2 linked regions of the Homo sapiens genome follow. The protein of the gene in region 1 purifies or fractionates together with the protein of each later gene. This does not show direct contact. Each region holds a gene or a part of one and is shown in the gene's direction. Other genes may lie near its edges.

Region 1 (2,181 bases):
CTTAGTAAAGGGAGTAATCCTGTAGCCAAGGAAGTTGACCTTGCTTGGCTTCTGCTTGTGGGTGCCGAAGGGAGGGAGGTGGGGTGACCGTGGGGCATGGATTGGTGGTTGGACTCCTTTGTAAGGTCTGATTCCCTTGACACTTTCAGGGAATCAACCCACTGTCCTGGAGACGGCGGAAGCATTCCACCCAGGGAAGAACAAATGGGAGATCCTCCCTGCCATGCCCACACCCCGCTGTGCCTGCTCCAGCATAGTCGTCAAGAACTGCCTCCTCGCCGTGGGAGGTGTCAACCAGGGTCTGAGTGACGCAGTGGAGGCCCTGTGTGTCTCTGACTCCTAGCTGTCTCTGGGCTCAGTACCTTTGCCCTGGACCATATCACTTCACTCTTAACATGAGGAATGATCTTGTCCAAGCAGTCGGGGCTACTTCCAAGAATGTCAGCTCCTGTTAGCAACCAGTGGAGTCTGGCCTTGGGGCTCTAAGTTGACCTCTCTATAGCTCCAAATCCTACCAATCTCAGAAAACTGTAAGAGGCACAGATGACTCCACCAGCTGCAGAGCTGACTCTGAAGAGAGTCTTCACTTACTGCACAGGCAAAGAAAGGCACAGGAATATTTCCTACCTCTCCCTCCTGTGAGTCCCACCTCCCCCCACCCCCATCTCCAGGAGGCAGGTAGAGCAGTTCTGACCGAGAGGATAGACTGCTGTTGCTGTCTTTCCCCAGCTCTGAACTAGTTTTAAGGTAGCTTAGGATGAAAAATGGAGAATGATTGGGGGTTCCAAACCACTTTCTTCTCCCTTGGCTTATATCTCTTCACCATTTGGTGGTCAACTGTGGGCCTACCCTGGACCTCATCTACTCAGCGAGAATTGGACATGAAGCTAGAGGCAGCTGCCTTGGAAGGGAAGTCAGGCTCACTTGGACAGCCCAGGCCATGGCAGGAAGAATCCCTTCCTCTTGGGGTCCTTGATGGGCATGTGTGATGGGGAAGGAGCAGTCTCCCAGCCCTGGGTCTGCTCCCCACATCTCTCCTAATTCCACTTCACCTTTTGCCACCCCCTCCCCACCAGAGGCCTAGCCCTTTTGTCACCGAAGGCCCCCAGAGTGTTTCTGTGTGAAACCCTCTCATTTACACTGTGGCATCAAAATCCACAAAAGATGGATTAATTGCACTCTGGTTAATAGCAGCAGCACAATGATTAAAATCTATATTCCTATCTTCTCTAGCACCCTGGTGTGGGGATGGGGCGGAAGGGTGTCTTGAGGGGCAGGGAGGACCCCATAAAACAATCCCTCCTGCATTCTCAGGCTAAATAGGGCCCCCAGTGACTACCTGTTCTTGGCTGTCCCCTCTGAAGAGCTCTGCCTTCTCACAGCCACCACCAGTTGCCCCACTCCCAGGAAAACAGCACATGTTCTTCTTCTCCTGCCTTGAGACTGCGTGTTAGTCTTCCATTCATAACTCATCAGCAGCTCAGTCCTTCTTATGTCTAGTCTCAGTTCATTCAGCCAAAGCTCATTTTTGTCCTATCCAAAGTAGAAAGGGTTCTTTTAGAAAACTTGAAGAATGTGCCTCCTCTTAGCATCTGTTTCTGACTCCCAGTTATTTTTAAAATAAATGATGAATAAAATGCCTGCCCTGAAGGGTTCTGGAGGAGTCAGGTATCACTCATCAGGTGATAGTGTAATTCTTTCTCCAGGAGGCAGGAATGGAGGAGGATCACCTATCTGGATCTGAGGGGTCCAGGGAGCCTCCTGGAGGGAGGGAGTGTGACACCTTCAGCGGGATCTTCAAGGACAAGTGGAACCTGGGTCTTTACAGGATACGGATTTTTTTCCCCTCCCTTTCTCTGGGTACTTGGACTTTTTCCTTACTTGGGTCCAAGAAGGGCACTGCCACCTGCTGGCCCAGCATTTCCCTTCCCCCTCCCAGGGCTGGGAGGCCTCCCGTAGCCGCTGCTGCCCCCTAGTGAGGAGACTGCAGAGAGGCCTCCCCTGCTGCTTCTGGATCCCTATATTTGAGTTCAGCCCCTGAAGTAACAGATAGAAACAGGAGCTGGAGGAGCTGCAGATACTATAAGGGATGATGGAACTGTGCATTAGGGGATGCTCTTCCAAAGGCATCCTGTCTCCTCAATCCCCTACCCAAGAAAGGTGTTTAGCAACTGGAGTGCC
Region 2 (3,500 bases), on another chromosome or scaffold:
AGATACTCTGCCCTGAAATGTGAAAAAATGAGAAGTAGATACATATAGAGAGGGAGAGAGGACACTCGCTAGCACATGCTGAATGTAGCAGGTTCATGAAACACTCTAGTTACAAAGGTGTGTACTTGAGGATGCTCTAAATAAAATGAGTTACTAATAGAATGTGAGTGACATCATATCGTTCCCCAACAAATACAAGGCCAAATTTGTATCTGCTTAGGTGTGTGACTGGATGTGTGCGCAATTGACTGTGTATGTATGTACAACAAGAGGAAGGGGAATGAGAAGGTGTATAAAAATAGAAGTATTTATGAGAACCTTGTAGCCTATTCGGAGAGGTAAAACAACCATGTGTAAAACTTTTAGAACAACTCAATAGAATAATATGTAAACAAATGGTTACAATGCTTTGAAATAAAGCTGGTAGAGATATGCAAAGAATATTAGAGGCCTGTGACACAAAAGCAATGGTGAATAGGAGTAGGCTCTTTCTTGTAAATAGTGAGCTAATCACAGAGGTGCTGATAGATTAGCAACTGCTGGGGAGAAAAAAAAGTATTTTCCTTTTGAGAATCAACATCTTTGGGCTTAAATGCAGGATGAATCCAAAGAATCTCAGTACTGTCTCTAAGCTGAGGTTGGCATAGGAGAGACACAAATTTTGTTTCCCTTGGCAAAGTAAGTCAGATCGGCTTAGTGAACATACATGTGCAAGTATTTGCAATAAAATGGAGTTAGCATTTCTGAAGAGATGTTGTTAGATTTTCTAATCATAAAGGCGATACACACTCCCAATAAAAACCTTAGAAAAATACATTAAGTATAAAAAGTCAGGGAGAAAATTTGCCTGTAATCCTATGACCCAAAGGCACTCATAACATTTTGGCATTTTCTTTCTCCTTATTTTTAATGATTTTTTCCATAATGCTTAATAGTGTATTACAACCTACTCTGTTTGCTTAATCTTATGTCTTAATATTTTCCAACTTCTAGACAAGCTTTATTAATGTCAGTATAATATTGGATTATGTGGACATATCATAATTTATTAACTATTCCCTTAAAATTGAACTTTTAGGCCATTTCCAAATATTTGATATTATAAATGGCACTTTGATGAATCTTTCTTCAAATTTCAGAATCTGTTTTTTGTGCATAAGGGTTATAAATGCATTTATATTCCATTTTATATATGTTTATCAGATTACTTCTTTTAAAAAGATTCGTGGAACGATAATTCCTGGGTCAAAGGGTATGAAAATTTCAGGCTCTTGATACTTAATGCCAAACTGATTTTCAAATAACTGAAGTTATGACTGACAGTGCATGGAACTACCCTTCACATGCTCTCACTAGGTGATTGTTTTTATTTTTAAATTTAAAAAAGCCACCATTTTGAAAAAAAGAATAGTTTATGCTAACTGCTGATTTTGTTCCTTTGTTACCCAAATCTCCCTTTTAGAATGTAGACTATGTAAGATATTGTGATTCATTTCACTTTTAAAAATTTACTTATGTTTCTGAACATGCAGATAGGGGCCCATGATAGAAAAAAGTAGCTTGTGAATGATTTTTTGAAAGCCAGTGTTATACATATCCTGTTTGGGGACTCTTCAGACTCTGCTGTGGAACAGCCCGTGAGAGAAGTTGATTGATGTAGGATGAGAGCCCCTTTTTGCAGAGCTAAACCCCTGACAGCCCCGCCTCTGTAGCCTTGGATATTAGGTCCTAGTAGTCATGGAGTGTTCTAACTGCACTTTTCACTGGGGCTGTAACCCAAGTGAGAGCAGGCCTGTAACTGTTTTGTCCATGGCTATGTCCCTAGCAGATGACCTTAGACAAAGTTTTGCTGGGAGGTGGGATCTGAAAATGCCTGAGTTTTTGTTTTTGTTTTTGTTTTTGTTTTTTTTTTTTCAGACGGAGTCTCGCTCTGTCACCAGTCAGGCTGGAGTGCAGTGGCATGATCTGAGCTCACTGCAATCTCCGCCTCTCAGGTTCAAGCGATTTTCCTCCCTCAACCTCCCGAGTAGCTGGGATTACAGGGGCACACCACCACGCCAGGCTAATTTTTTGTTGTTGTTATTTTTAGTAGAGATGGAGTTTCACCATGTTGGCCAGGCTGGTCTCGAACTCCTGACCTCAGGTAATCCACCCACCTCAGCCTCCCAAAGTACTGGGATTACAAGTGTGAGCAACCTCACCTGGCCATGAAAATGCTTGAGATTTTTCCCCTAGAAAACTTCTATAATGTTAGTCACTGATTGCCCAGAAACAAACTTCCTGAATTTTGAAACTTCTGGTTTTACTCTCTTTTCCAAAGAAAATTCAACCACATCACAGTACCTAGTTTTATGGCAATGAACTTTGACTTATTCCAGAAGAGGAATTTGGATCTTACACATACCTCTGCAGGGTATTTTATTGTCTAAAAACACTTACTGAGAGTAAAGGGAACTATTAAACTTACAGTAGCAGTCAATTTGAGGTGGTTTTTGAGTGCCAATTTCAATTTTTCCACAACTATTATATTCCTACAAAAATAATTTACAACTAAAATAAAAAATGTTTTGGTTTTCTTCTAAAAGTTGAAGGATATTATTCTATTGTAATAACTCTATTCTCCTTTATGGATCTCAGTCAGTAATTTTGAACAAAATTATTTTCGTTCATTTGTTCAACAAATGATTATTTAGAGAGATTCATTCAGCAGGTGCTGTTAAATTATATTATGACTCATTTTGTCAAATATGAGACAGATCTTCTTACACAACAATAACGCAGAACACTGTGTAGGAATTTATGCCTATACATTTATTTACTTACTTATAAGACACATAAAATCTCTTATAACATGCGTTAAAAAGTAAACTTGGCTCAGGAGAAGGTTTATTAATTAATAAAGGATTCATTAAATATTTGTGCTGCCAGCTGGGGATCCAGTAATGACCAAAACAAAAAGTTATGGAGGAGCTTACATTGTAAATGGAGGACACAAACAGGAAACATATAAATGAGCAAGGCAATTTCAGGCATTCAAAAAGTGCTGTAAGGGAAGTCAAGAAATCTGATGTCATAGAGAGTGCATGCGCTCATTTAGATCAGATGGTCAAGGAAGACCTCTCTGCATTTGAGGCATTTAAGCTACAACCTGCGAGAGAATGAGGAGCCAGCCTCACATATTTGGGGAGGGGGCATTGGAGTAGGTTTTATACTCAGTGCACTGGAAAGCCATTAGAAGGTTGCTCTTTTGGAGCATGATGTTTGAGGTCATTTATTAAAAATGAGTGTTGAGATGAAGAGTGCAAAGTATTACCTCACTGTAATGATGATATTGGTATTGGGAGCAAAAACAATGCTCACATTAGAGACTATATGTAGTTATGGTCAAGATATGTCATATATCACTATATGGCTGAAGACATTTCATATACAGTATGTCTCCCTACAAAGGGGTTTTAATATAAATATAACGTAAATATATTTAATAAATTTATAAATAT

What was found.
Region 2: the proteins of KLHDC8A (region 1) and TMEM200A purify together in Homo sapiens (affinity purification with mass spectrometry; one large-scale study listed by BioGRID and IntAct). This does not show direct contact.

Annotation. Positions count from the first base shown.
Region 1 is NC_000001.11:205,335,561-205,337,741, reverse strand, and holds the end of KLHDC8A (kelch domain-containing protein 8A), read left to right. Parts: intron 1-149; coding exon 150-343; 3' UTR 344-1,681; downstream 1,682-2,181.
Region 2 is NC_000006.12:130,372,517-130,376,016, forward strand, and holds part of TMEM200A (transmembrane protein 200A), read left to right. Parts: intron 1-3,500.